3 linked regions of the Homo sapiens genome follow. The protein of the gene in region 1 interacts with the protein of each later gene in a biochemical or structural test. Each region holds a gene or a part of one and is shown on either strand. Other genes may lie near its edges.

Region 1 (12,235 bases):
ACCTATTACGGTCCTACTGAGCAAAAAATAAATAAAAAATAAAAAATAAAGCACCTTCCTAATGGTCTCCGCGAAGCCCATTCTCACAGCGGGTCGCAGTAGTTCTTACGAGTGGCCAGCAGATGGCAGTGTTGGTCCAAGGACGTGCGTCCACGGGTTGCGACACAGACGCCGCTGCGAGGAATTCTGAGCTCCACTACCCCAAATGTTAATTTCCAGTCTCTTCCTTCCTTAGGTTGTACTTTTAGCTTTCGTGGTGACCTCAGTTGAAAGCCCGCGGGGTTTAAGCAGAAATAGGAAAACTGCTGTTGAAAATGGCTAAATCTCCTCGGGACCCCAGGAGAATTCGGGGACATCTCCCCATCATCCCCATCATCATCCCCATCACCGGGAGCTGGTGCGCCGGGGCAGCGGGGCTTCGGGAAGACGTCTTCGGAGCCGGGAAGACGACGCTGCTGGGCTAGGCCGCAGAGGCTCAGCCGGACTCGCTACTAGGGTTCTGTGCAACCCACGCTCTCGCCACCTCAGCATTTCCGCCCCCTCGGGGCAGGGGGACCGCCTGGACCTCGACGCCGTTCCCGGGCCGCGCTGTCCTATCTGTCCGCGCGCCACCGCCGCCCCCATAAACCAGCCTGGCGAGGGCCGCGACGGCCGCGCAGCTGATTGGAAACGACTGTTACCGTTGCACAATAACGCAGGGTCGTAAAACAAACAAACAGCAACAGGCCGCCCGCGGGGCAAGGGAGCTGGCGAGGGGCTGGAACGCAGAAGACGGCGCCTGCCCCCCAAGAACGCACGGGACCCGTCCTCCTCCACACTCCCCTGCTTCTCCCACATTGAATTACAAGGACGTCCCATTCTCAATCCAAACCCAGAGACCTCGGCCCCCTCTCGTCCACCCGGCGCCTCCCGGGCCCACACAGAGCCTGCGAGGAGTCCACTGGCTGCCCGGAGGAGGGGAAAGGTGACCCAGATTAGCCTCCGCTCCGGGCCCCCGGGGTTCCAGCGCTGCGCTCCACTGAGATAGCGGCGCCGACCGCCCGGGGCTGGGGAAAGCGGGATGCGTCCCCGGAGCCCACTAGAGGGCGCGACAGCCCCGCGAATCTTACCCGGCTCGCCAGCTAGCTCGCCCGCAGCCCAGGCTCCTGGTCCCCGACAGCGCAGCCGGGAGTGCTGCGCGCAGACTTCGCCCGGGAGGCTCTGCGCTCGGACTGTCCAGCCCCCGCCACTGTCCGGCTTCTGACCCCGGGACCCAGAGGAACACTGCGCGGTCCGCTCTCCCTCCCACCTCCACCAAGTCCTCGGCGGCTTGGTTGTCCCGGGGTTGGCGGCGATGCCCAGCCGCTCCGGGGACCTGCGCCCCTGCGCCCCTGCGCGCCGCGCTCTGAACCTCAGAGCTGCAGAGGCCGCTGCGCCCCAGGCACGACGCTCTGCGTTTGCATTGTTTTCAACTGAGACCCGAGAGGGGGCCGGGCGGGTGTGGAGAGAGGGGGGAGAGCGGGAAGAGAATCCGGGCGGGTGGGGGGAAAGGGGCCGAGGGGTTTAGGGTTACAGGAGCTCGCCAGCGCCTCCTATGGGCACGAGAGCCGCACGGCCGTGGGTAGCGGCTCACCGGGAATGCTGAGGAGAGCTAGCATGCGCCCTCTCGGCATTTAAGAACCGTTCCTGGCCGGGCGCGGTGGCTTACGCCTGTAAATCCCAGCACTTTGGGAGGCCGAGGTGGGCGGATCACCTGAGGTCAGGAGTTCGAGACCAGCATGGCCAATATGGTGAAACCCCGTCTCTACTAAAAATACAAAAATTAGCCTGGCGTGGTGGCGGGCACCTGTAATCCCAGTTACTCGGGAGGCTGAGGCAGGAGAATCGCTTGAACCTGGGAGGCAGAGGTTGCAGTGAGCCGAGATCGCACCACTGCACTTCAGCCTGGGCGACAGAGCGAGACTCTTGTCACACACACACACAAAAGTGCCTTCTGGTGCCACCTTGCCCGACACGCGCCATAGCCGCCTCTGCCCCCTCAAGAGTCCGCGCCCACCCGCGCTTGTCGCTCCCCTTTCGCGGGGGCCGAGAAACTGCAGTAGGAGGCAGGGAAGGAGGCGCCCCAAGTCGGGTTTCCCATTATTCCCTCCTACAATCTACTTTTTCAGCCCATCCCAGGTTCGCTCATTGATCAGTTTAAAACAAAAGGAAATGCCGCCGAGCCACTTCAGCAAACGACAACCATCTGGCAGAACCCGAATTAGGGGGAAGTTGGGAGAAGCCATTTGCCCCCGATCCTGCATCTTGCGCCCCAGGCGAGACCGAAAGATTATCTGCCGCCCCAAGGCTGATGCTGCGGTTGGACCCGGCGAGTTAGACCCGGGGAACCCTGAGACCCACACCTTTCGGTCACCGATCCGGCTTTTAGCTCTTTTCCTAGAATTGTCACTTTTCCACCAGCAACGTATAACCTGGTCGCAGCTCCCCGGAGGTCAAAGGGAGTACTTCCCTGTGGGGTCTGCAGGAAGGCGCTGGCCACCACGTCCCCAAAACGCGTCCCGCCGCTGCGCGCCGCCCACGGTCCGTCCCCAGGAGGCACAAAATGGGCCCGCCTCGGCGCCAGACGTGTTTGCAGCTGGAAAGCCCGGCCCAATGCCCCTCCCCCTGCATCCCTCCTCAGTCCGCGTCCCGAGAGGAAACTGGCCCAGGGGCGCAGAGCTGGGAGCCTGGGATCTCCTTCAAGTCCTTCTCGATCTAAGGATTTAAACAAGAGCCAGGGCACCGGGGGCTAACGACGGGTTCATTCTTGGCTTCCCCTCACTCTTGTGAACGAGGTCCAGCTGCACTTGGGTCAACCCAAAACTGCAAGCTCCGAAGCAGGGCCTGACCAGGGCGTCAAAGCGAGCCTGGTCGGCCTTGCGCCTGTCGGGGAGTCGAGGCAGGGCCTCCTCATCTTGAGGGTTGTGGAAAGGAGGAGGCCGAGGAGAAAGGGAGAAGAGGGGATGCAATTCAGCAGTGCCGGGGTCCAGGTTGACCAGATTAGGGGTCGGGGATGGGACAGCGCGGCGGCTGGGGAGGTGCGCACGCCCGGAGAGCCCCTTCCTCCCCTCCTGTGGCTCCGGGGATGTTTGTCCGGTGAGATGCACTGCGGAGGACTGTCGTGCGTTTGCCCTGGATGCTCCCTGCTCCAAAAATCTGTCTAGTTCTTGTCAGGAGCGACCGCGGCGAGGCGAGTCGGTCCAAAACATTGAGCAATTTGGCCTCGGAGCCAAAAAGCCATTTCCCACACCGCCCAGCCCGCGGCTTTTCGGACGCGGGGCGGTAGGGACCTGATATGGGCCCCATCCATGCTTGCCTCCCACCCAGGAAGATGGAGTGAGTGGCAAGTTCTTCCAGGCACTCCTTGCGCACATCCTGAGGTCTTAGCACAATTCGGGGAGCGAAGTGCGGGACCGGCGCTCTGGCTGCGGGAGGGATGCACAACGCACAGCCTGCCAGGCCAGCAAGTCCTTCCCGACCAAGACGCGAGGCCAGGCCATCGGCAGCTCTCGCACACCTGGCCCGGCCCAGGCTCCTGGCTCCCTCTGGCAACGTACTCGGGTTGGGCCACACTCGTCGCTCCGACCTGGCCGACACCCTCCCGGAATAGAACAGCTGATCCCACATATTCAATGCCAAATGGACGCCGCCCGCTCCCTGGGCGCAGCCGGGCGGAGTTAATTTCGTGTGTAAATCTGGTTTCCATGGGGGTAGACAGCAGAGGAAGGAGAAGTACGCACAGACGGCTCTGAAGCCGGCAGGGAGAGGAATGGAAAAAAGGCCAACTAGAGAGGACCGAGCAGCGCTGGGCGAGCTCAGACGGCAAGTGCCACGCACCCCCGCGCGGAGAAGGGTGCCGGGTAGGGGGTGTCCAGGGCTCGGGTGCCCGGAGGGAGAATATGGTTTACCTCCCACCTTTCTGTCTTACCTGCAAACAAGTTTCCCCAGTTCCAAGTCGTCCCTAACTTCCTCACAAGAAGTTCGGCACCTTCCTGGAGACCTTTCCTCTCTTCCTGCCTGCGGCCAGAACTGAGCGAAAGCAGAGCCCCCGGGCAATGCAGAAATGATTCCACCGAGGAGGGGGCGCGGGAAGACAGGCGGGGGCGGGGGCCACGGAGCACAATGAGGGCCCCTTGGTGTGCGGTTCGAAATTCCTCAAATCCCAGTTGCTGGAATGCGAGGCGACGACGACTTCTTCACTCAGGGCCAAATGTGTTTGTCATTATTCCAGACCGCCCGCCCGCGCCGCCGCTGTCGCCCCCGCGCTAGGGCGTGCAACCCGAGCACACTGCCCGGCAGGCACCCGCTCTCCCTGGCACCTCACTGACCCAACAAACCGCTCCAGAGCGCCCCAAACCCTTGCCCACGCCCGCGCGCCTCTGCTTGTCCCGCAGCCGCCTCACCGCCGCGCCAAATCTGGCCCCGACTCTCTCCCAGAGCAGCGCCGTCCAGTAATCACGCGCATTCGGCCGGCTCCCTGTGCTGTAGGCCAACACCGAGGTCCGGTCTCCAGCCGAGCCCAGCCCGCCTCCTGCGCCCCGCAACCCCTTCGCGCGCCCCCCTCCACGCTCCCCTCCACGCTCCCCTCTCCCCACCTCCCCCTGGTCCCCCAGCCGCGCTCCACACCATGGGCTGCAGCGCTGTCCCGCCAAACCGCAGGCGAGGAATGAAAACACTCATTTAAAACCTGTCGCCTTCCAGGACCCACTGCCAAGAAGAGGGCAAACACCTCTGCCTCCACCCCCAGTTCCTTGGTGTTCGGCCCAGTATTCACGAACACCACCCCCACTCCCAAAAGAAACCTCAAAAATGTAAGCCTAAACAATTTCTTTGGGAGGCCATAGGGTTGTTAGAAAAACATTGTTTTTAAAAATAGGTCTGGAAAATGTGTGTTTAAAAAAAATACCTAGACTTTCTAACTCTATGGTTATCTCCCACCCGTCCCCAAGTGAAGTTTATTCCGAAAAAAAAAAATTACTCTCTGGACACACAACTGGAATCCAGCTCCTTTTTTTTTTTCTTGTCGCCCAAAGTTTGAAGTTACTTCGCTTTCTCCAGTCCCAGAGTCTGATCAGGGACTTCCCTTATAAACAAAAAATCATTTTTTCTTTTCCCTTACCTTCTCCTCCGATGTTATTCCGCAATGAATGTCCCACACATGGAGTAAAGAGCGTGCCCACGGCCTCCAATGATCTCTTGCAGTCTCCTCCTCTGTTTCTCTCCCTGTAGCTCCAACAGTAATGGGCTCAAAAACCGCGTTTTGTAATTGATTCAATGTTATAGTCCATCCTTCTAAAACTAATCATTTGCTCTAAGTAAATAGCTGTCAGGAAATAAGCCCCCCCTCAACCTTGGTCTCTTCAAAATAAAAGTTTCTCTCAAACTCCCTGCGCTCCGAATCTCCCAGTGTCCAGATTGCGCCTTCGCTTTTTGCTCTTACGCAATCAGGGGGTCCAGTCCCAACCCCCAGACTTCGACAACAACTGGGGGGCGGGGAGAAGCAGACCAGATGGGATGGGGGGTGGTGGAAGGGGGAGGTGTTGGTGCTCTGCCGGGAAAGAGGTTTTGTGAAACTACAAACAGCCCATCATTTCCAGAATGAGTTTGCCTCCCCATTTTGGGGTTATTTTCTTAGACTGCTATAGTTTTGTATTCTCTTTGAAAAGAAGAAAAGGAACATACAAAATTGCATTTAATACCCAGAGAGAATATAAATCTAGAATCAAGAAATGTCCCTTCTACAAACTCGGCCCAACGAGAAATAGGGCCCTCGGGAGAAATCTCCAAGCGGTTGCGCCGTTTTGAACTAGGGGTCTTTTAGGGGAAGGGCTATATAGTTGCTAGTTATTTAATAGGATTGGGCAAACTGTTGAGTCCAATATGACAATGATGGGTTTTTGTTTTGTGTGGTGTGTGTGTGTGTACAAGACTGGGTGGTCTGAAATACGGTACAAAGAAAAGAGGGTCTGTGTAGGTTTGGAACGTTCTCCGATAGAACGACCTTTACTCCCTTGAAGTCACTTATCTGGTCGTGCCTTTGTTTTCGGGGTTATCTGGGCGAGGTTGCCCTGGCTTCTATCTCGCATACAAAAAAAGCTCAAGCTTGGGCGTTTGAGGAATCGTACCACCGCCTCCGCGTCGTGGGGGAGGATGCCTTTTGATTCTCCCTCCGTTCCCTCCCGCCGCGTGGGTCGAACCCTACGAATTCCTTGGAATTGACAGCTGAGCCCCAAACCCTGCGCCCAAGGCGAGAGGCCAGTGTCGGGAGGAAACGATCCTGCCGGCGAGGGAAAGGGGGCGCTGATGCTCCAGGAACCAGACCTGGGCAGAGTGGGGCTTCCCAGCGACAGCGGGGGAGGGGAGCGCGTTCACCTTCATCGCTCTCTGATTTTTGAATTCTCCTGTTGGGGTTGGGGGTCATCCTTCATCCTTCTCCCTCAACCCCACCCCAACACACGCACTCTGAAAATGGCCAAAGTGGCCAGGTTGGGACTGGCATGTCCAACAGCCGTCTCCTCCTTCACCAGGAGGGTGGACACAGTGCAGTGGACAGGGGAGAGTCACAGAGAAGTACTCCAACGGGCGCGGTGCTGTGCCTAACCAGGACAGGATCTTGGGATGTCAGCCTCGAAAACAGGGCGCCTGGGGCTGCGCTGGGGGTCCCATTGCCGCAGTTCTTCTACGCGACCCGCTCTCGTGCATCTTCAGCTTGGGTGACTGCACCGCTCGCTATTACTTCCACATGTCCCTTCAGGAAATCATTGAAGGCAAATATATGAACAGCCCCTTGTTCGGAATGCTAACAGGATACCGTAATGTTTGTAGAAAATGAGCGGGAACAAACGATCCCCCCAAAAATCAGAGTGCGGAATAAAAGGCAAAAGCGGGTGCTGGGCCACATGCTGTTAAGTTGAGAACCGGGTTTTTAGGCTAGTTGCCCCAGAGGGTAGGAGGCGAGACAGACAGCCTACCCAGAGGGGCTGCTTTGCTTCGGCGACACTGTTAGTCCGGTCAAGCCAGGGTCTTCCGTCCGCAGGGCCCCAGCGCTCTCCGCCCACAAATGGTAACTTCACAGTTCATTTCAGAGCCGTTTAATGGGGCCCGAGAAGCAGTCCGGGCGGGAGTGTCTCCAGGCAGCGACTCCTCGGGAGTTTAAAGCAGAAAGCAATGGATGAGCAAGCGAGCACCCAGTTGTCCTTCTGGTAGTAATTACCTGCCTAATTTGAATGATGCCTTTGTTATGATCATTAACAAACATTTGCTAAAGGTTTCCATGTGTGACATTCTGGAAGGTTTAAAGGCCTGAGGAGCTGACTCCAGGGATAGTGCCCCGGTGGGGGGTGGCGCAAGAAAGCAAATGGTTGGGGGAAAATTTTGCGGAGAGACTGTGCAAAGAAGAGAGGTCAACATCTGCCTCCTCTGCAAAAGCAAAATAAACCCAGTGGTCAGGAGCAACCTCCGGACAGGAGGCCCTCGAACCGAGGCGGTTGGTTCCTTAAACCGAGTCCTGCCCCCACAGCCCCCGCCCCTACCACTGCTCATAGGCGGGTTTGAATCCTGTTTTCCGCCTTCTAAGGCTGGTCCGAGGCTGGTTCGGGAGAAGTCGGGTCTGCGCCCGGCAGTCAGTCCGGGGCGTCGGGGGAAGGTGGGGCTAGTTCTTGCCGCGCTCTCCCAGTGTCGTTCTAAGATCCTTCGAGATCGGTCCCACGACGCCCCGGGTCCTGGGTGGTCCCGGAGCCGCAGGGGGCTAGAAACCTTGCCCTCCTGAGGCGGGCTGCGGGTCTTTTCTCCCCTTCTTGTGCTTCTCACTGGGCACCGTGTGGGGGGTGGGGGGAGGGGACCAGGCCACCATATGTACCCGGAGGAGAGGAGCGACATGCACTGGCCTGGGCAGCTCTGCGCAGATCTCAACCCGCGCCCGGATTCTAATTTTCAACCTCTTGGGGTTTTTTGTTTTGTTTTTTCCTTGAGGGATTATCAAGGGGTTAAGAATGTGGGTTTTCTCCCCAAAGTGGGAGTCGGGGAGGCTGCGAGCCGAGAGGAAGGAGGCCCAACTCCCGAATTGAGCCGGGCCGAGAAGTTGGGAGAAAAGGGTAGGGACTGTGACAGTTCTGTCCTCCGCCTTGCGCGTCTAGGCCAGCAGGCGACATGAAATTGAGGGCAAGGGTATAAAAAGGTGCAGTCGATTAGCTGACTTTCAAAAAGAAGGCCTCGTAAACTTTTTACAACCAGATCAAAATGGTCACTAAAAACAAAAGCAAAATCTCGCCGTGCCCTGCCCTGCCTCCAGGGCCCGTTCTCCTGGCCCCGACTCCCGGGCGAGGGCGGCCACAGCTCCGAGCGCCACACCTTTGGCTTTGAGGGCGCTTCCCACTGAGTTGGCTTTTTGTGTCTTCTCCTCCTCTGCCCCCCAGCTCCACCGCCAATTCTACTTTCCTTGAAGAATTCAGGTCCGTTTGCCCTAGAAGCCGTACGAATTTAACAGTTATCAAAGCCGTTAGTTGTGAAAATCACGTTTAAACTTGTGAATTCTTTTTTTCAAATGGTGATGGGCGGGGCAAGGGAACGGGGGATGTTTCTGGCTTCACAATTTGAAAATGAAGGGCCCGTTTGGTGGTTTGCAAAAGAAAACGGTGCTAACTGCTCCTTCTCCCACCCCCTTTAACCCTTGGCTGCATCTGGAATAGCCGCCTCCCTGGGTCCAGCGAGGAAGGGTCCTTTGCCCGGAGGTGGTGGAGGTGACGCACAGATGTGGGGGGTCCCCGCAGACAGAGAGACGCCCTGGCCTCTGGTCTGCCCCAGCTGAGGCTCGGAAGCTAGCTCTAAGGAGTCTCTTTGCACGCTCAGAATTCAGAACGGCACTAGTCCTGGAAAAGGAGGAATTCTCTAAAAAGATCGAGATGGGTCTGTGCAGCTTGAGGTGAAAGTTCCCTCCCCAGGACTCCGCACCCACCTTGCTGGCTGGATCTCAAGGTGCAGCCTCTCTTCTGGGTTTGGGGGGCTTGCTCTTCAGGAAGTAGAAGCAGAGGGTTCCTAACAACGCAGCCTGTTTACAGACCTGAGGACAAGAGCTTGTTTCCTGGTCCAGCCCAGCCCGGTGGGCCATACACTCCTTAGAGCCTGGGACAGACTGGTAGGACTGGAACCCTCTGGATCTGGCTTTTGGATACCCCCTCCCTCGCTAGAGAGCCCCCTTCCTCAGTTTAGGGATGTTGTTGTGCCTCTGCCCTCTCCTGCTCCTTAGGTCTTTGGTTTTAGTTGCTTTTAATTTGAAAAACCATATGAGGGGAGGGGGAAGGAACGAGGAGATTGGGAGGTCTGCTCTTTATTAGGGGCCCAGGCCTCTAGCTTTCCAACACACAGCTGTGGCTGGGAGGGGAAGGAGGGCTGGCTCTGTGTAGGTCAGCCTCACTGAAGAGAGGGACTTGTCCTCTGGAAGTCCCAGGAGTCCAGCACAGCCCTGTGATTTTTTTTTTTTTAATCCTTCAGCAGAGACACTGCAGTGGAAAACCAGTGGAACCTCGACTCTTTGCTCATCCATTAAAAGGGGCATAATCGACTAGGCATGGTGGCTGATGCCTGTAATCCTAACACTTTAGGAGGCCAAGGTGGGAGGAACACCTGAGCCCAGGAGTTTAAGACCAGCCTGGGCAACATAGTGAGCCCCCATCTCTATTTAAAATAACAGTAATGACCATTGGAATAATCATGCACAACGTATAGGGTTGTCTTGGGGATTAAGTAAGATAATATCCCAGGTAAATAAAGCGGTTCATATGCAAACTTAAGATGTACAAGGCCATGTGTCAAGGGCTAAGGATACAGCCCTTTCCTCCTAGATTTTATGGACTAGTGGAGCAATCAATTAGACATAAAGTTGCAACTTAGCGTTCTAAGCAATGTTGGAGAGAGACAATGAAGTCAGCACACAGGAGGAGCCTAACCCAATCTGGGAGATGGGAGACGGCTTCTTTCAGGGAAGGCTTCTCTGAGAATCTAAGAGGAATAAGAATCTAGTTGGGGAGGAACCTCATTGCATGGGCGGGGAGGTGAGAGAGAACATGAGATAATCAGAAGTGAAAGGAGTTTGGAATGGCCACAACTTGTAAAGGTCCGGAGCGGAAGGAGCAAAAAAGAGGTGAGATGGAGCTCATGGAGGCCTTCTAGACCATGTTAAATGTCTAGGCTTGCAGAGATGGGAGGATCGATGGAAGGTTCCAGGCCAGAAGTTCAAAACCAGAATGGACAACATAGTGAGACTCCATCTCTACAAAAAATTTAAAAATTGACCAGATGTGGTGGTGCACACCTGTATTCCCAGCTACTCAGGAGGCTGAAGCAGGAGGAATGCATGAGCCCAAGAGTTCGAGGCTGAGGTAAGCTATGATCGCACCACTGCGCTCCAGCCTGGGAGACACAGCAAGACACCATCTCTAAAAAATAATAAGGCTGGGTGCAGTGGCTCACACCTGTAATCCCAGCACTTTGGGAGGCTGAGGTGGGGAGATCACGAGGTCAGGAGTTCAAGACCAGCCTGGCCAACACTGAAACCCCGTCTTTACTAAAAATACAAAAATTAGCCAGGCATGGTGGTGTGTGCCCATGGTCCCAGCTACTCAGGAGGCTGAGGCAGGAGAATCACTTGAACCCAGGAGGCAGAGGTTGTGGATAGCCGAGATCACGCCATTGCACTCCAGCCTGCGCAACAGAGCAAGATTCAATCTCAAAAAAAAAATTAATTAATTAATAAAAAGGAAAACAATTGACAAAAGAACCTGGGCTTAATTCTATGGAAGTATATGGTTTAAAGAGGGGCAAGACAGGAACAGAGTTGAACATTTAGCAAGATCAGCCTGGATGATCTCAGGAGATAGGGAGGCTCCTGCTATAATCTAGCAAGAGAGGATGCTTCCCTGTTCCTGGGGGATAGCAGGAGTTTGGAGAAAATGAAGAGTGAATTAGAGAGAAGGAAGTAGAAAGCCTAGCACTCACTGAAAATGTGAACTGTGAGGGAGAGTGGGGTGCCTGGCTGAGGCCATGGCTGGTGCTGTCTACTCAGCAGGGGGACAACCAGGAACTGGGTTAGAAAGGAAAGGATGGGCCGGGCATGGTGGCTCATGCCTGTAATCCCAGCGCTTTGGGAGGCTGAGGCAGGCGGATCACTTGAGGTCAGGAGTTGGAGACCAGCCTGACCAACATGGAGAAACCCCATCTCTACTAAAAATACAAAATTAGCTGGTAGCCTGTAATCCCAGCTACTTGGGAGGCTGAGGCAGGAGAATATCTTGAACCCAGGACAGGGAGGTTGTGGTGAGCCAAGATCGCGCCATTGCACTCCAGCCTGGGCAACAAGAGCGAAACTTCATCTCAAAAAAAAAGAAAGAAGAACAAAAAAAAAAGAAAAGAAAGGATGAGTCCACTTTTAAACATGACACATTTGAAAAAGCTCAAGAAGGATTAAAATGAGAGAAAGAAAAAGAAACAGGACAGAATTTGGGGTAACTCCAGCATTTTCCAATAAGCAAAGAAGATTGTGAGAAGGAACAGCCAGGAATCTTTATCTCCTGGATAGTCAGCTGTTGTCTCTGAATCCATAGGATGAGAGTTGGTTGAATTTAAAGACCTGTGTAAACTTATCATCTAAATTCAACATTATTTGGGAAGCTGAAGTGGGAGGAGGCTTAAGCCCAGGAGTTCAAGGCTTTAGTGAGCTATGATCACACCACTGCACTCCAGCCTGGGTGACAGAGTAAGACCCTGTCTCTAAAGAGAAAGAGAGAGAGAGAGAGAGAGAGAGAAGGAAGGAAGGAAGGAAGCAGGGAAGGAGGGAGGGAGGAAAGAAAGAAAAAAAAAAAAAAAGAAGGAAGGAGAGAGAGAAAGAAAGAAAGACGGATGTGACATTATACAATATGTCTGGTGACTTTTTACAACAACATAAGAGCTTTAGTGATAATATAATTGGCAAAACTAGATTATTTTTCCCTCATTTGTACTCTTAAATAGACTTTTGTGGCCAGGTGCAGTGTCTCATGCCAGTAATCCCAGCACTCTGGGAGGCTGAGGCGGGTGGATTCCTTGAGTTCAGGTGTTCAAGACCAGCCTGGGTGACATAGTGGAACCCCATCTCTACTAAAAATACAAAACATTAGCTGGGCGTGGTGGCAGGCACCTGTAGTCTCAACTACTCGGGGAGGCTGAGGTGGAAGAATCACCCAAG
Region 2 (7,991 bases), on another chromosome or scaffold:
CTGATTTCATAATTTACGATAAAGGTAATCAGCTCAGTGTGTTACTGGTTTAAGGATAGACATACGGAGCAGAATAAAGAGTACAGATATGAACACTTATACTTACGGTCAATTGATTTTTGACAAGGTTCCCAAGACAATTCAATAGAGAAAGGAGAGTCTTTTCAACAAATGGCACCGAGACAATGATATGCAAGTGCAAAAGAATGAGGTTGGACCTTTACTCACACTATGTGCAAAAATCAACTCAAAACGCATCCAAGATCTAAATATAAGAGCTGAAACTATAAAATCTTAGAAAGAAACATAGGCATAGATCTTTGTAACCTTGAATTAGGCAGTGGTTTCTTAGATATGATACCAAAGACACAAGCAACCAATGGAAAAATAGGTAAATTGGACTTAATCAAGATTTGAAGCTTTTGTGATTGAAAAGACCCTATCAAGAAGGTGAAAAGATAACCTGCAGAATGGGAGAAAATATTTGCGAGTCATATATATGATAAGGGGCTTGTATCTGGAATATATAAATAACTCTTATAACACAACAATAAGGAGAAAAATAAATCAATTTAAAAAATGGGCTAACGGTTTGAATAGACATTTCTCCAAAGAAGATATGCAAATGGCTACTAAGCACATGAAAAAATACTCAACATTATTATTCATTAGGGAAATGCAAGTCAAAATCACAATGAGATTCCAGTTTACAATCACTAGGATGGCTACAATAAAAAGATGGACAAGAACGAGTGTCGGTGAGGATGTAGAGAAACTGGTAGAAATTTAAATTGTTGGTGGGAATGTAAATGGTGCACCTGCTTTGAAAAACAGTTTGGCAGTACCTCAAAAAGTTAAACGTAGAGTGACCATATGACCCAGGAATGCCACTCCTAGGTATTTACCCAAGAGAAATGAAAACGTACATACACACAAAAACTTGTACACCAATGTTCATAGCAACATTATTTGTAATAGCCAAAAAGTGGAAACAACCCAAATGTCTACCAACTGATGAATGGGAAATAAAATGTGGTCTGTCCACGCAATGGAACATTATTAGACTCTAAAAAGAAATGAAGTACTCACACATGCCACAACATGGATGAGCCTTGAAAACTTGCTAAGTGAAAGAAGCCAGGTGCAAAAGCCCACATATTGTCTGACTGCATTGAAATGCAATGTCTAAAATGGACGAATCTATATAGAGTGAATATAGATTAGCGTTTGCCAGGGCCTGGAGGCTGTGAGAGATGAGGCATGACTACTAAGGGTTTGGGGTTTCTTTTTCGGGTGATGAAAATGTTCTGAAATTAGTGGTGATTGTGCACGATTTTGAGAATGTACTAAAAACCAATGAACTTTAAAAAATAAAAATAAACAAAAAAAATTCAACAGATGAATTCAGAGAAGGCCAGCTTGATGGATGAATTCCTTGGAATCTCTTGCCTCTCAGCACTTTTGTTTCTCTATGTGGCTCACTGCTTGAGAGGGATCTCATCATTTTCTTACTCAGTTTTACTGCAAGAGATGATGTCTCTATTTGGCAAAAAGTAACAGCAGTGAAAATATATCCCTACTTTGTAAAGGCACAAGTGATGCCTTGTAGCTGCAGGTTGTTATGTTTTATTTAAAATAGAAATTCACTAGAGGTGTCAGAGGTTTTTCTTACCTAGTGAACATGTTCTCAAATGTCCTCTCAGCCTTGAGGTTAGGACATGACCACGTCTAAGAAATACCTTTAGTCACTAAATACAGGACACTACTGATCAGAGGTTTACTGTCAGGGACTGGCCAGCTGAGTGCATGGTGGGGCACCTTTTAAGTTTCCAGGCACATTTTTGTACTTACTGAGATACAGCAGGAGCACTCTCAAAGGCCACAGATCCACTCTGTCTCTTTATAACACACTTTATTCTTCCTCCATGCTGCAGTAGCCACATAGCCACACACACGCGCATACACACACAATAGAATGAGCTAGCATTGTCTAGAGGTTCTGGGAGAAGAGAGGCTTGCACTGAAATGTCCACGTTCAAAGTCTAAGGATTTAGCACAAGGTCTTCAGTACTACCCGGAGACTGAAGATAGTATCGTCTTTGGACTGCAAAGCATTGCTCAGTGTTGCTGGGACATGCACGAAGAGGGTCAACACCAGCCAGTCCTTGCTCTTTGGGAAGCTAACAGGATGCAGTTCTGGGGCCTCTGTGCACATGTACTGGAGCACTGGTGAGCTCTGGGTGCAAATGCAGCAGCAGTGGGGTCTGTTAGCATTCATGCCTCGCTGCCCACCAGCCAGAGATGCCCCAGGACTCTGCTGTTCCCAGGGAAGTTGCCATCCTAGGAGCCAACAGAGGCCACTGGGGATCAAAGGGACAGCAACTCACAGTAGATTTTCTGACCAGGAGCACAGCCTTCCTGGGAACCCTGGAGTTATAAGACTCTTGGGCATCAGAACCAAGTGGGATGCTTTGTCACTCTCTTCGTGTGAAAGCTCTGGCGGGTACATTGGGTCTTATTATGGCGCAGGAGTCTGTTTTATGGCAAATAAGTGACATTCAATTTCAATAGCCCCACTGGATATACACCCCGACCCCCACCCATCTCCTTGAGAGCATTTTCACCATTTCTTAGTCTTTCCCCAACTAAAGCCTAGAAGAATGAGCGCAGGGGTTCAGAACGCTACCTTGGGTTCAGTTGTTTCTGGCCTCCTCCCCAGACCCCATGCCTGAGGTCTGCCAACCACCTTTCCCTACAGTTTCAGACTTGTTTACAACCATATGCATGGCCGGGGTTGCCAGGAAGTGGGAGCTGCAGATTGTCTTCTGCAATGTATCATGGCTCTGATCATCAAAAGTGAACGTGGAAACTCTGAGGCTTATTTCTTTAAGCGCTGGAAAAAAAAATCTGACACATACTTTGGTCTTCTTTTGGCTTGAGTCTATGTGTTGCCACTTCAGGAAATGTAAGGGGACAATGCAGGCTGTCTTTTAAGAAAATCCTGGTTTCAAAGTGTTTAACACTTTTTGTATTCAATAGCAATGAAACGCCACTTAAGGCAAAATGTGAACACCTTGATTTTGTTCTACTGTGGTGACCTGCTCTGGCACCCCTCTGTAACTGTGCCAGTTGGTGAATGACATGGCTGATCATAAGTTGTCTGCTTCATTAGCTGCTTGATAGAGAGTGCACTAGATAAACATTTGTTTCCATACATTGCTTTGCCCCCGTTCTTCCTCCCAAGAACGGTGACTGGAACTGGTGGCTTGTAGACCCCAGATCCCTGCAGGGCTTCAGAGTTATTGGCCTGATTACGGCACAGATGCATGGGCTGTGACAGGGTGTGGAAGGGGGCCCTGGTCCCATTCTCTGGAATCACAGGTGCACTCAGTTATCAGAGTTCTGTGGGAAGATGCTCTAAGATTCAGGAACAAACATCATGTATGATGTCCCTGAATCTGCTCTGAACCACAGTGGAACTCTGGGGATGATAGGATTCTAGACTGTTACCTTGAAGGAACCCTAACAAATATTTCTTAAAAGTGGATTTGGGAGCCATCTGTAGCATCACAAATGAGTTTGTGTTAACATGCTGATTCCTGGGCCCCACTACTGAATCAAACACTGTAGCTAGAGCCTTGGAACCTGCATTTCAAACAGGAGTCCCTGGTGGTCCCCTATGTATCTTATGAGAGGGAATGGAACTCCATCCTCCTGCCTCAGGCCCATTCTCATCATAACCCCAATGTGATTTTCTGCCTGCTACTTCTCAAGGAGATTCCTGGAGGGAGAACTCCTTGGACACCCATGCATCTCAGATGTGTGTCCTGTCTCTAGTTCTGTGAACTTTGTGGCTAATTAAGCACCGACCATAGTCTGCCCTTAGAGAAAGACAGTGAGCTTGAAAAATTGGAGTCATTGTCAAATCCAGTTATAGCAAATACCAAGATGGCAAATTCTCTACATAACCCAAGATTCCAAGTCTGAAATGGATGGCCTCGTGATTTCAAGAGACGTTTGAAAGGGCAGGCCCTTTGAGGAGGACATAAGTAACATCAGCCTTAGTCCTTTTCAGCAGGGAGGAGCCTGGGCCTGCTGAGCCCCCCGACAATGTGGAAGAGCCCCAAGGGAGAGCACAGGCAGCAGGCTGGAGCCACAGTGATAGTGCTGGCTAGGTGGGTGCCTTTTGGCAAGGTTCCTGACTTCTCTGGACTGTAACTTTCTCATCTGCAGAAACAAGGGCTAAATGATGAAGTGTTTAGGGGTAAAATGTGCTGATCTCTACAACGTATTTAAACATGCGTAAAGATGAGATTGGTGGGATGGATAGAGGGGTGGATAGATGAATAGGGATGTAAGAAAGCTGGGGTAGAAAAACGTTAATGATAGAGCCAAGATGGGTATGTAGCTGTTCAACTTTTCTGTGTTTGAAATTTACATACAATGTTAGGAGAAAACCAAAATTGGGTAAAATTTTGGAGCCAAAATGCACATTAGAGATCAATTTGTGGGTGATAAAATTGAGGCAGAAAAGGCAACTAGGAGCGGAAGCAGGACTAGAACCAAGGCTGCCTGCGTCCTAGTTCCCAAGCTGTGTGTGGTCCACTTCACCACACTGCCTCCCAAGACCACTGGGCTCGTGGCCAGGCATGAATAATGTCTCCGAAAACCTGACAAGTGCTGTGGAACTTTAATTATATGAGACTTAAATGGGCGTTGCATGAAAAGAAAAAAAGAAAAAAAAAAGGTCAGATAGGATTGGGGGGATACTGGTTTAAACAGGTTTATCTACTGCAGGACATGTCAGAGCCTTTAATGTGCCAAAGTCTATTGAAAATCTCTGAGAGAAATATACAGCATTTCTGAAAGAACCGGACCACAGATGCTAACACCCATCCCCATCCTTTCTTTTTTAATGGCTAAGTTCTGGATAGCACACTCGGAAAAGACAGCCCTAAAGAAGATAAGGGCACTGTGTGTGTGTGTGTGTGTGAGAGAGAGAGAGAGTGTGAGGAGGGAGGAAGTGATACATGCTCTTTCTACTGCATTTTATTTCCATAGTGAGTCCACACACGCACAAATTAGACCTTGTTCCTTCGTCACATCTCCTGAGGGCGAAGGTACCCTCATGTCAAATGGCAGTACTGGGCATTTCAGGGGCTCGGTTAGCCAAAGGGGAGGTTCCGGGAGGCTTGAACCCAGGCCCTTCCCTCAGTGGTACCCTGGAAGGGTCACTGCCCCTGCCAGCCCAAGGGTCATTTTCCTCCATTGGTGCCCATTTTTGTGCTCAGGCAACAGGAGTCACTTAAACATGATCTTCCAAGGAACGTGTACGGTTCCAGCAAACAATAGAATCCGAAGAAGAAAAAGACTCTGTTCTTCACTTACATTTGGCCAAGTGAAGAGACAACCAACTCTCCCTGTGTCTGTTTTTCAGGGCAGTGAAGTATATTTTTGGAGCTGGTCAGGACACAAACCAATCTTACAGGCACGAACAAAATGCAGCATTCCCCAAATGCAGCCAAAACCCTTTACTGGAGCCACCTTCCTAACGCCAGTGGTCACTGGTCACTTTCCTGAGTGCGCGTGGAGAGGTTGGCCCCGGGTGGGAACCGCGTGCTGGTTTATGTTGTTACAGTACAAGTGAACGCAAAGACTTGCAGTAGCTGCCTCTTGGCAAATGATCTTCCCCCACGCCCAGGCATGGGGGCATCATGGTGGGGCTGGGGGAGAGCGAAGGGCCATTGTGCTTCTGTGGCTGGGCCGTCTTTTCTTTCTGGCTTCCCTACACCGTGTGCTCCATCATGGGGTATGGAGCAGTCCCTAAAGAGAAAGAGCTCGCCAGCAGCCCCTGTGAAGAAGTCCCCCGGGGACCAGTCTGGCCCACCACCCCCTGCCCTGCCACCGCTGTTGCCCCACCTGGCTTTAGACCTCCTTCCGCAGCACCACCTTGATGCTGCTGCAGACCTGGCCCAGGGCCGCGAAGAGTGGGTTGCAGAAGGTGCGGATGCAGAGTGAGTAGATGTGGCTGATGCACTGGATCTCGATCAGGTAGCTCTTAATGCATGGCACCACCGCCCAGATGTGGCAGAAGGAGATGCAGGCGAACAGGAAGCCCCAGAGCAGGGCCAGTGGGACGCCCAGCAGCGTGGACAACAGACGGTAGCACCAGTACTTGGAGACAGTGAAGGTGGTGTAGCTCACCTTCCACACGCCGTCAAAGCTGTAGGTGCCCACAGGCTCTGCGATCACGTCTTCAAAATCCACCTGCAGGGGTGGCAAGGGGAAGCCTCAACTCACAGAAGCCACCCGCTTCTCAAGCTTTTGGGTGTGTGCGTGCATGTGTCAGAATCCCCTAGAGGTCAGGTTAACCTTGGTGGCTGGACCCTACCTGTATTAGGCTATTCTTGCATTGCTTTAAAGACATACCTGAGGCTGGGTAATTGATAAAGAAAGGAGGTTTAATTGGCCCATGGGTCTGTGATCTGTGCAGGAATCATGGTGCTGGCATCTGCTTGGCTTCAGGTGAGGCCGCAGGGAGCTTTCAACCATGGCTAGAGAAGGGAGAGCAGGCGTCTCCCCTGGTGAGAGTGGGAGCAAGAGAGAGAGCTGGGCAGGGGGTGGAGTGCCACACTTTACAACAACCAGATCTTATGAGAACTCTCCCACTATTGTGAGGACAGCACTAAGCCACGAGGGATCTGCCTCTGTGATCCGATCACCTCCCACCCGGCCCCACCTCCAATATTGGAGATTATGTTTCACCATGAGGTTTAGAGGGGACACAGATCCAGACCATATCATCGCCCCAGGGATTCCGACTCCCCAAGTCTGGAGTGGGGCCTAAGGCTCTGTATTTCTAACAAGCTCCCTGTTGAGCCCAAGCTGCTGCTGTTCCTAGGCACCGCTGACCAACACAACACGCTCGTTCAACCCCCTCAAGGTGAGCGACTTGCTTAAAGCCAACAGTGACTTAGTGGCAGTGCTATAGTCGCAGCTCTCAAATTCTATTGTTTTATGATCTGAAGGGTGTTGGACGGTCGTATGCATCCTACAGCAATTTACTGAGCACCTGTGGATTGGATGGTGAACAGGCAGAGGTTCCTCACATCGCTTACCTAAGCTCTCTCGAGCCCTGCTATGCATGAAGCACCTTCCTAGCTGCCTACACATGGGTGATGTCACTTAGCATCACTAAGCCTCAGCTGTCTTGTCTGTAAGATGGAGTCAATGAACGTCTTCCAGTGGTATCATGAGGATGAAAGGATGGGAGGCTGTAAAATCCACTGGTCCACAGTGAAACCCTGTCTCTACTAAAAATACAAAAAAAAAAAAAAAAAAAAAAAATTAGCCGGGTATGGCAGCGGGTGTCTGTAGTCCCAGCTACTTGGGAGGCTGAGGAAGGAGAACGGCATAAACCCGGGAGGCGGGGCTTGCAGTGAGCCGAGATTGTGCCACTGCACTCCAGCCTGGGTGACAGAGCGAGACTCCATCTCAAAAAAAAAAAAAAAAAAAAATTCCACTGGTCAATTAAACAGCAGTGAACCAAATTAGCTGCTTCATGACTGGTCTCCCCATGGTTGTTACCAGTACAGCCCGCCAAGTGGGAGGTTGCAGAGCTGTTTGCTAATGCCTGAAACTGTTCTGAGATGTTTTCTTTCTAGCAGTGCTCCTGGGCCATTCAAATTAAAAGGGGGTGGATGCAGGTACAGACTAATCAGATCAACAGGAGGGGCCTGTGTGGTGGCCTGCAGGGCTGAGGCTCCAACTTCAATCTTCCTGGTTAGTTAGTCCCTTTCCCGCCTTGGTTATGGGGAGGGGATCCTCTCCTCTATTGCATCACCAATATTAAAATTACTTTCATTATAAAAAAAATGGCCATATCACAGAGAATTAACAGAATAGAAAAAAGAAAAGAGTCTTGGGTTTGTACTTCTCTATTACTAAAGATATGATTGTTTTGGTGCATTTCTTTCCAGTACAATATTTTC
Region 3 (11,040 bases), on another chromosome or scaffold:
GGCCACCTTCAGCTTCATCGCTGGGCACGGGTGGCGGTCACAGCGCTCCCGGGGTCTGTCACCCTCGCCGGGCGCCCCGGGAAGCGGCGGAACCCACAGGCGGCGGGAACCTGCCACTTCCGGTCCAGCCTTGGCCCCGGGCCGCGTCCACGTATCGGGAGCCTGGGGTCCCCGTTCTCAGGACTGGGCCTGTGTCCCCTCCTCCTGCCCATCCCGGAAACCCGGGGACCTCAGGACCAGGACTTCCTGGAAACGGCTGTACAGAGGGGACGGGGGAATCCGTGAGGGGGATGGAGGGGATCCGTGAGGGGACGGGGGATCTGTGAGGGGGACGGGGGATCCGTGAGGGGGATGGGGGATCTGTGAGGAGGACAGGGGATCTGTGAGGGGACGGGGGAATCTGTGAGAGGACAGGGGATCTGTCAGGGGACAGGGGATCTACGAGGGGACCAGGGTTCTGTGAGAGGATGGGGGGCTTCTGTGAGGGAACGGGGGTCTGTGGGGTGCAGGAAATTCTGTGATTTTTGCTACTTGAGTTCAAATACCTGCTCTTCCTTTTGGACCTGGAGGTCGCCATCTTCCCTGGGGTCTGTATCTTGGTCCTTGCTGACCCCATTTCCAGGGAGCATGCAGAGGCAAATCTCTGTGAATCTTGGCCCTTTGGTGATAGGTGCAGGGCAAGGAGCTTCAGTCCCAGGCTGGGCACCTGCCCAGGACACAACCCCAGAAGAGCCTGGCTGGCCCTGCTGTTTGCAGGCACTTGGGGAGCTCCCGCCCCAATGCTGCTCCGGAGTCTGGGGCCCAGCCCACCCCTGGGGTGGGGCAGAGTCAAGGCCCAGGAGATGGAAGGGCCCCTGGATGCCCGGCCACAGCACAAGTCCTGCCTCTCTGTGTCCTGCGACCCTTCTACTTGGGGCCCCCTAGGCGTTCCGGGCCTGCCAGGGGCACAGCTCACTCATCTTTAAAATGGGAGCCAAGCCCTCAAGTTCCCACCCCTAGAATTCTTGGAGGAACCCATGGCTAAGTATGAAAAGCCCAAAAAAACCAAGGAGGTCCCAGGAGGGCCGTGGCTTCTTGTGCTTGACAAGAGGGCACAAACCAGAAGGGCTTCTCTGCAGAACGGGATCCCCGAGCCTGGCCCAGCCCAGCAACTGCTCTGCGCACTGGACCCAGGCAAAGACCCAGGCCTCGGCTTCACCTACCGCTGGGAATCCCAAGACAGCTGTAGGGACCCACGGCTGGAGACCACCTGCCGTCACTGACTCTCCCAGCCAGTTCCAACCCCCTCCACAGCCAGGACACAGAGGCCTGGGTGAAGAAAAGGAAACACCCCCAAGCTAAAGGAGAAGCCCAGCAAAGGCTGGGCCCCAGCTCTCATGACCCCTGGCAAGGGCACGGTGTGAGCAGGTGCATTCAGGTGTCCAGGCAGGTGCAGGAACCTCGTTTTAACAGGCGGCACCATCGCCGCTCAGCAATCCCTGAGCCCAAGGGCTCTGTCCTCTGCCATGCTGGGGCCTAGAAACACTAGAGGCTGGAGTGAAGTCCCAGCAGGAGGAGGCAGCAGACAAGACCTGCACCAGGTGAGTCAATGGCGAGGCGTCCTTACCCTGCCTGAGCTGCAGCTCCGTTTCACAGATGTGCACGCCGACATGCAGATGGAGGCCCCTCGGTCAAGGTCACAGGGCTCACAAGACATGAAGAGCTGACCCTGGGCAGAAAGTCACCTTCCTGAGCCCAGATCCAGGTGCAGCCCAGGGCTAGGGGCCGGGAGGGGGCCCAGGCAGGAGCAGAAATCCCGGGAACGCAGGGCAGAGCCGCGACAAAGGCTGCAGGCCCACGTGGGTGGAGAGGCTCGGAAAGGATCCAGCCTCAGACCACAGCCCCCGCCACACTGCAGCCCTTCCTGGCTGGAGTGGCCTCCACTCTGCCTGCCCCTCCCCAGGGCTCTCCCCATGTCGGGACAGGAGGGGCTGGCACTAGGGCCCTCGCCTGCATGGATGAACCAATGAGGGAGAAAAGGAGGGAGTGAGGGAGGGAAGGAGTAAGTAGGGAGAGAAAGCAGGCCTGAGTTCCCACCTCTACTGCTACCTCAGCCACCCCTGGGCTCCAGACCTATGGAATTCTTATGGAATTCTCTCTTCCCCACCTGGCTTTTCTGCCCCATCACTTTAATGGACACGGTATTACACCAGACGACTTTATACAAAAAAGAAAAATGGAGCATTGTCGCCAGCATCTCATGGAAACAAATACATGTTACATTGCCACACGTCACATCCAATGCACATTCCTGGGCAAGGCGCTGTAACCGGTGCAGATCTGGACAGCAGCCCACAGGCCCAGGCAGGGCCCCAGCAGGTGTCCAAGGAACAGGAACCAGCTTGCAACCACCTGGCCCTGCACTTCCCCTCCAGCCTCCAGGCTGCCCTGACGAGGCTGAAAACAGCACCATGAAGATGAGCTGTTGAAGATAATCCTTCGTAAGAACCTTCCAGCAGCACATGGACAACAGACGCCAGCCGGCCGCCAGTCCACAGATGGTCCTCGAAGAACGCGGGGTCAAGATTGAAAGCAACCTCGATGGTTTGTCTCGTGGGCCTGGAGGTGGTGGAGGGGCCAGCCCGGGCAGGGTATGGTGAGTGCTGCACATGGACACACCAAGACAGGTGGGCTCCCTTCTTGGATGAAACTCTTCATGGTCTTCTGGCTACTCTGACACTCCTCATCCGCTCCAGGGAGTGGAGCCTGCAGGAGGATGTCCTCGGCCTAACCCCCATAGGTGCTGAAGTCCGAGGTAGGCAGGCATCCCACGGGTGCCACCATGGAGGCAGGTCCAGGGACCCCACCCAGAAAGCTCTGACCTCCGTTTCCACCCAACACAGCACCGCATGACCTGGCAACCAGGGTCTAGACTCAGTGCTAGAAAAACGTACCACAAAACGCTTCTCACGTCCACGGGTTTTGTTGGTGGTATTTTTTTTTTTAATTTTGGATCAACAAAAAAAGAACATAGCAGGCTCTCAGGTATACAAAACAGGTAATATTAGGTAAACATACAAACTTCACCTTTACAAAAAAACAAACCACACACACACATTTCTGTTAATACAGGTAAAGCACAATATCTTACCAAAAATAAAGAATTTGGGTTCTGTCCAAACACTGGCAGCAGAGGGAGTGACCGCCACCACGGCACCAGGGCACACCAACAACACAGACAGAAGCGGCAATGCATCTCACGTGCCGCGTGGGAACACAGCATTCTAGGTGTGCACTGCGGGGAACAAGTTGTCACTCAGCCACAAACGGGCTCTGGGGCAGGTGCCGCAGGGACGGCGTACGATTGGTTGACGCATAGTTCTTTCAAAATGGCTTAAATTAACAAATAAAGCAGGGTAAGGGAGAAACACAAAGCCAGAAACATTTAGGAAATGATGCATAGGTAGGTATACCATGTTTATTTTAATACATCTCATTAGTTTGCATCTTGCTAGGAAAAATACCGTCGCACTGTCCTGACAGTTACAGCAGCCTGTGTGTTATCGGTGTAAATGTCATCCAAGAGATAATTAAAAAAAAAAAAAAAAAAAAAAAGCTAGCCAAAGAGTAAAAAGGAAAGCTTAATAATCACTTTATGGTGTAAAAAAAAAAAAAAAAAAACAAAAAAAAAAAAAACAAAACAAAAACAAAAAAAAAAACCACTTAAGGCTCTCAGGAAGGTTTCTGTATGGGCTTAAATACTACAGCGAGGAGGTGTGGTTTCTAAAGTTCGCGTGGCGGTTTCCAAGACATTCCTGCTTCCTGCGGGCCCCTGCAGAGCCCACCAGCACCCCTCTGGAGTCGTTCCCAAAGCAGGCTCTGCATCCTCGGCAAAAAAGCACCTGTGACCACCCGGACAGAAATCCAGTCTGCTGAGACCTCTGCACTTCCATCCCACGGGGCGACCCTCCATCTCATCGAGTTTAGATATTTTTGTGAGTCCGTTTTGTTTTTGTCATTTGTGGTTTTGTTTTCTCTCTCTCTTTCTCTCTCTCTCTTTTTGACAAGGAAGCTTCTTACTGCTTCACCGAGTGCTACAATACTTGCTTTGATGTCACATTAAACAAATGTGCACTGTCTCTTTGTTCTCCCGAGTGTTCTCGGACACAGTTTTTCACGGAGGAGAACAAAGACCGCACACTGGCAATAAAGCACCGTACATAGTAGGTTCAGGAATGTAACACGCCATGTACATCCATGTCCCAGGAAAGGGCTGCGGCTCATCCTCACCTCACATCTGCAGGGAGAAGGGAAAGACAGACACTGAGACCACCGACCAAGTGAACCACCCAGCACACACATGGCTGCATAGGAGGAAAACAGGGTGAAAACATTTAACCCAATCAGGGGCACACAGGGATTTCAAGTTTTCAAGAAATTTCCAGAATCACATTTGCCACATTGGCCATGTTGCAGTACCCTGACAGGAATTGGGATTAGGCTCACAGCATCTCACAGAACATGTCTAGAGACCAAGCCCCATTCTCCCATTGTACAGATGGGGGAAACTGAGGCCAAGAATGGCTCATTTGCCCTTCTCTCTGCCTTCCTTTCTTCCAGCCTAGGGCTTAGATGTGATTTCTGGAGCTCTGGCAGCCACCTTGGGCCATGAGACAACCCTGAGGATGGAGGCCACCAGCCAGACAGAAGAGTCTGCACCCAGGCAGACCTATGCTGATCGTTTAAGAACAATTCTTCCACATCCCATGTGGCCTCTCCATCGCACACTCCAACACGTGGGCTGCCTATAGGCTGAACATGAGTACCAGCCAGGCATGGGACAACAGGAGTGCCAGCCTCTCACCATGGGGTCTGTCACCAGCAGGCCCATGGAGGCCAGAGCCTAACGCTCTGTAGAAATGGGACCCACAGGCAGGCACAAAACCACCCACCAGGCCACACTTTCAGCAAACAAAGCCAAGGCTGACCAACAGTCCTGGACTGCTTCAAAGACCCGCCCAAGTGGACAATTTCCTCCCAAGAGGCTCCTCATGAATGGACCTCACCCGCAGGCCCAAGTCCCACATTGCAAACAGGAGCCAGGGTTCTCAGACACCCTATCTCTGAGATCCTCCTCTCTTCTAAAGAAACTATTTGTTTTGGCCACCATGGAGTCCCACGTGCCAGGAGGGGGAACCAGGCCAGACAGGGCTCCAACTTTCCCAAGCCAGACGGGCCAATGCCAAGGACCAGGAAGGCTTGAAACTGCCTCCTCCGTGATGATGGCGGCTGCCCAGGTCCCACCTCCATCTGGGAAGCGACATGTCTTGCTAGGAGACATTTCCCAAGCTCCCTTGCAGTGGAGGGATGGCAGCTGAGAAAAACACAAAAGTCACTGGGTGGGATTTCCAGGATAGCTCTCTAAGGGTGTTATTTTGCCCTTCCCCCCCCCCCCCGCTCACTCCTTCTTCCAGCCTGGAGCACAGATGTGGTTTCTGGAGCTTTAGCAGCCACCTTGGGCCATGAGGCAACTGCAGATGGATGCCACTAGCCAGACAGAAGGCGGACACTGATGATACCTCAAGACTACCCTCCCTGCTCTGCAATCCCACCCTTAGATGAAAGTCATGAAGCTCGATCTTATCTCAATCCCTGTGCTGTCTGGTGTTACTAGCAGCCAAATGCAATTTCCAACACAGTAGCCAACAGCCCTGCACGTTTATAAAGGATTTCCAGATATATTCAGCCTCCAACAGTCCTTATCTGTAATCTCAGTTAAGCCTCAGTTTTTTCATCTGTCAAATGGGGTGGGTGATCCCAGAGTGGCCAGGCGCTCAGAGCTGCCCCACCGCTGCTCAGGTCGCCCAACCTGTTCCATTCATGTGCAATGCTCCTGCATCCCCAATCAACGACAAAGAGAAGGACAAAGCTGGAGGCAGGCTCCCAAGCGGGAGTGAGCCACGGGCCAGGGCGTTCTGCGAGGCAGGAGCGGACGGGGAGCAAGGAGACCCAAGCCCAGCAGACACCATCAAGGCCAATCAGGGCCACATCCCCGCCGCACCCGGCGAGACAGGAAGCGTGATTTGCTGGTGTGATCAGTCAGTTGCACCTCCCCGCCCTGCAGGACTCAGTGTGTCCGGCAGACAGTCCTACCTGGTTGGCTGCTTTAGGTGGGTTTTAACCTTTTTCTTTTCCGTTTTTTACCTGACTCCCTAGGCCTTCCTGTTAACAAAAGGGCAGGGCGGTGAGTGGGCCGAGGGACGGCCGTCGGGGTGAAGAACTGAAGCAACAAATACCTACGGCATTTGTTTATCTTTCCAGAAGAGAAGGCCAGCACCCTGGCACCGAGAAACTTCTGAGTCCCCTCATGCTCCCAGGGCCCAGCCATAGCAGGGCACAGAAGCCATTCTGCTCCTGGGTGGAGTCCGCGTGGCGGGGTGAAGGAGAGACCCCAGCCAGCCAGGGCAACTGCAGTCCTCGAACCTGCTCCTCCCGCCCACCCTGGCAGGAGGCCCTTCTGCAGATTCTTCTCAGCTCAGCCCCGCAGCCCACTAATGAATTGGGTGTCTTATGCACTCCCAGCCCCTCTCAGTGAGACCTGAATCTCCTCTCCTGCCAGTGCCGCAGCTTGGGCCACCCTCCCCACCGGACACCTGCAGGTGTGGGATCCGTCTCCCCCGCAGGCATCTGGCCCGGGAGCAGGGCAACGAATCCTTCAACAGCAGCCCAGATGCTCACAGCAGTAAGCGTTGCGCTCAAGGGGGCCACCTAACACCCCAAAAGCAAGGCTCTGAAGACCTGTTCTCCAACACCGATGCCGACGAAGGCAGCCACTCACCCGTGTCCTCTTCCCGATAATCCGGATTCAGGCTTGTGGTCGCGCAGGCGCACTCCAAATGCTCCTCTAACCTCACCTGGACTTCTTTTAATTTTGGCTTCTTCCTGACGTATTCCACCTTGGCCACCTGCCAGAGAGAACAGAGCCCGGCCATGAATGCCTGCATGGAGCTTCGGACATCACGACGTGCTGGGAGCCGGGGACAGGCTGAGAGGGAGGAGAGAGCAGCCTGACCCCTGACCTCCTCCCAGAAACACTACCTTGTGGTGGGGAGTGTAGCAGTACCAGGTGAAAAACCTACAAGCTGCAGTGCAGTTTTGTGTGTGTGTGTTTTAGTTTTTTCTGAGTAGGGTCTCACCCTGTCACCTAGGCCAATCATAGCCTCTGCAGCCTCAAGCTCTTGGGCTCAAGTGATCCTTCCACCTCAGCCTCCCACCTGTAAGCACAGGCCACCATGCCCAGCTAATTTTAAATATTTTTTTTGTGTGGAAGAGATGAGATCTCGCTATGTTGCCGAGGTTGATGTTGAACTCCTGGACTCAAGTGATCCTCCTGCCTCAGCCTCCCAAAGTGCTGGAACTTCAAGTGAGAGCCGCCGCGCCTGGTGTTGGAGCATGGTATTTAGCAGACTCATCCTATTTTTGTTTAAAATAAACCCAAAGGTTCACGTGTGCCTGGGGGGGCTGAAGGATGCACACTGCTAAGGTGTGGAAGTTTGGGAGTTCTGGGGTGCAGGTGGCCAGGGAAAGTGTTTGCTTGTGTGTGGATGTGCAGCTGGGAAATGTTTTCAAATGATCACGTTGTTTTTAAATACATTTTAAAAGCCAGGCTGAGCATGGTGGCTCACGCCTGTAATCCCAGCACTTTGGAAGGCCAAGGCGGGAGGATCACTTAACTCCAGGGGTTCAAGACCAGCCTGGGCAACATAGTAAGACCCTGCCTCTAAAAACAATTTAAAAATTAGCAAGCCATGGTGGCACCTGTAGTCCCAGCCTACTTGGGAGGCTGAGGTAGGAGGATCGCTTGAGCCCAGGAGTTTGAGGCTGCAGTGAGCTGGTATCACACCACTGCACTCCAGCCTGGGCAATACACCAAGACCCTGTCTCTATTAATATTAAAAAAAAATTTAAAGCCATGGCCTAGGAATGGGGGGTTCGTGGCTGTATCCTAGCCCAAGGTTGCTGTGGACTTGAGCGTCCAGATGATAATCCCAGCTGCTGGCCTGATGAGGGCCCCACCTCCCCGCCGGCCCCAGGCAGCAGGGCCAGCAGACCCATACCCAGGGTCCCCTCATGGCTCCCCCAGGTCCGAGGCTCTCCTTGGGCTCGGAGAGGCCTGACCTCGGAAACCAGGGCCAGGGATCCTGGGCCATCACCGAGGCTACACAAGATGATCCAGGAGGAGCACAGGCCAGCAGGCCGTGGCTATCAGGCACAGGCAGCTCAAAAGCGAACCAGACCTCAGCTGGGTTCCCCTCTTCGGACTGGACTTTGCCTGTCTGCGAGCCACGCCTGCCCTCAATTCTCCAGGCACAAAACCACAACATGGGGGTCCTGCCTCCACAGCCCCTTCCCCGGGGAGCTGCAGGCAGACAATGGCCCAGTCCAGGCCAGAGAGGGGAGCTTCAGGCATTCAACAAGAGAGGCAAGAAATCACACACACACACACACACACACACACACACACACACACACATAATGCACATATAGGCCCTGTCACGGGAACACAACTCCACCCCACACACACACCTGTATAATGCACACACATACCCTGTCATGGGGAGGCAACTCCACCCCCCACCAGTCATGCATGTGTAATGTACACAGGGGCCCCATCGTGGGAATCTTACTACACACACAGAGTGCAAGCACGCACACGCCTGGCATCAACAGACCCCTAATACACAGCCAGGGACTGCATGAGTAGAGTATTGGCTCTCCCAGCCCAAACCCCAGCACTCATTTCATCCTCCCAACCATGCTACAAGGAGGCAAGACTGGCACCTCCATTTACAGAACAAACTGAGGCGCAGGCAAGCTCTAACTAAGCCTGTCCCTAATTGCTAGGCTGTCCCACCTGCCCCCTGGAGCACACACCAGGGAATAGCCACCACCTTCCTGCCCTCCCAGGCCCTGGGGAGCTGAGCACCCAGCAGGCGCTCCATCTGTGCCCACGGAACCAGCCCTGCCGCATGCAGGGTCTAAATGCAAGAACAGCCACTATGGATCACCCACTTCACCCCTCACGGTTCATGGGGAAACTGAGGCTAGAAAGGAAACGGAGGCCGGGTCACCCCCTGAGCACAGGGGCGTGGGGGAATGCACGCTGCTGGGTGAATGAGGAGACCTCAGCCCAAGGCCAGATGCCCCCAGCCCAGTGGCCCTGCCTCCCAGGCAGTCAGGAGGGTGAAGGAGGGAGGAGGGGAATGTTTCCCAACCTTCTTGGGGGGAAGGGGGGACTCCAGACTCTGGAGACTGGGCATCAGCAGGGCCCCCAGGGAGAAGGTCAGCTCTGCACCCTGGGACCAGGCAGGCTCCGAAGGTAAGCCGGTCCCTAAGGCGCTGGGGACCAGGCTTGTCCGAGGCTGAGTTAATGGTTAACCCACAGTGCAAAGGGTGCCTGCAGGCGTGTGAAGTGGTCTGGGCTGCCTGGGGCGTGAGCAGACAGCCAAGTATGAGCTCAACAGTTGCAGGGCGTGGGGCGCCTGGGGTCAGGAGCCAGCTCAGAAACAGGACCTGGCCTGGGAGGTTTCGCTACGTCACAAAGCGTGAGAGAAAGCGGCCAGGACACTGCCGCTTCCTACATGGGGCTCCGTTCCACTCGGGAGGCCTCAGATCAGCCTCCACACTCCCGCGGCAATCTGCCCCTTTCCCCAGGACAGAATCCTCCAGAGAGAGGCCTCCGCAGGCCGTGCACACACTTCCACCTCCCATCTGTAAAACGGAGACCAATCACACCCACCCAGGAGTTGAGGAATAAATGAGGCTGCACATGCAGAAGGCCCCAGAAACGAGGACAAAGCCAGCCTTCAAGAGTGGGCTGCCACTGGCGTGGATTCTAATCCAGAGCCCCAAAACCAACCCACCCCCTGGTCCCCAAGCTCAGCACAGTACCACCACCCACCCACCACAGGCAGAGAGTGGGTCTAGAGCCACCCTCCTGTTGAGGGCCTGGGGTCGGAGAGGCCCGGCCCGAGGATGAACTGCAGCAAAGCCCCAAGAGGAGCAGCAGGGCCACCTGGGACCTCAGCCACCCCCAGCCCTGCAAGCATGTCCTCAGCCCTCCCTGAGTCAAGAACTGCCCAGGTAGTAAGTAACTAGGGATCCCAGTGCGCAAAACCAGGCCCAGCCCCCTCCTGCCTCAGCAGGGACCGAGTTCCTTCCTCCCCTCCCCTGGAGGCCCTGGACACAGGTCCCAGCAGGAGGAACAGCACCAGCCTCACACCCTGCCATCTCCCAGGCTCGAAGCACCCATACTCTGCTGCTCCCACCCACCCCCAGCCTCTGCAGGGGTGGCCAAGTGAGGCATGGGGCAGGTGGGCTCTGAAATCTGGGTTCGTGGGGATGGGCTCGGGCAGGGCGCCCTGTTCTGCTCCCGGCCCTGACCCTCCGGATGGCACAGCCTCTTTGGTCAACAAGCAGCCTCACCTAGTTCCCTCGGCAGGGCAGATACCAGGGCCTGGCTCGGCAGAGACCGCAGGCCCGTCTGGCCAGACACCAGACGCCCAGGCGAGGGGCAGGCTCGCTCTCAACCACTCGAGATGGCCGGCCACCGCGGGCGCGTGGGCTCCCAGGACACAACAGAAATGCCACCCCTCTGGGCACCGTGCGAAAGGCACATGGCACGGCCGCTCGTCTGGGAACCCACTGCCTCCTCAGACAAGCCCGTTTTTATCAAACAAAAACAAACAGCGATGATTGCACCTGTTTCTGAGTATGCCAGGATTCCGGGCCGTTCCGCCACCTCTGTCTGGCCAGGAAATAGCTACATTTTTCTCCCAAGAACACAAAATGAATATTGGATTCTCACAAAAACCTCCTCCATAAAAGAAGGCCAAGTCCAAAGAACAGACTACAATGTCCTCAGGACCCCCACGGGGGGTACCCCGGCCCCCAGGCCCCAAGCCGAAGCCCAAGTGATGGGGGGGGTCCCCATGTCCCTCCCCTTTTTCCGTCCCAGAGATGTGGGCTGCACCTTATCACACCAGACATTCCGATTCCCCA

What was found.
Region 2: the proteins of PDGFRA (region 1) and CAV3 form a complex in vitro, tested with the Homo sapiens proteins (one study listed by BioGRID).
Region 3: the proteins of PDGFRA (region 1) and PDGFA form a complex in vitro, tested with the Homo sapiens proteins (2 studies listed by BioGRID).

Annotation. Positions count from the first base shown.
Region 1 is NC_000004.12:54,222,318-54,234,552, reverse strand, and holds the start of PDGFRA (platelet-derived growth factor receptor alpha isoform 1 precursor), read right to left. Parts: upstream 5,261-12,235; 5' UTR 5,138-5,260; intron 4,687-5,137; exon of another isoform or gene 3,947-4,686; intron 2,585-3,946; exon of another isoform or gene 2,382-2,584; intron 1,454-2,381; exon of another isoform or gene 1,110-1,453; intron 594-1,109; exon of another isoform or gene 82-593; coding exon of another isoform or gene 55-81; intron 1-54. UniProt on the Homo sapiens protein: Tyrosine-protein kinase that acts as a cell-surface receptor for PDGFA, PDGFB and PDGFC and plays an essential role in the regulation of embryonic development, cell proliferation, survival and chemotaxis.
Region 2 is NC_000003.12:8,743,802-8,751,792, reverse strand, and holds the end of CAV3 (caveolin-3), read right to left. Parts: intron 6,268-7,991; coding exon 5,926-6,267; 3' UTR 5,035-5,925; downstream 1-5,034. UniProt on the Homo sapiens protein: May act as a scaffolding protein within caveolar membranes. Interacts directly with G-protein alpha subunits and can functionally regulate their activity. May also regulate voltage-gated potassium channels.
Region 3 is NC_000007.14:494,299-505,338, forward strand, and holds the end of PDGFA (platelet-derived growth factor subunit A isoform 2 preproprotein), read right to left. Parts: intron 6,945-11,040; coding exon 6,818-6,944; intron 6,202-6,817; coding exon of another isoform or gene 6,146-6,201; exon of another isoform or gene 6,133-6,145; intron 4,277-6,132; coding exon 4,266-4,276; 3' UTR 2,960-4,265; downstream 1-2,959.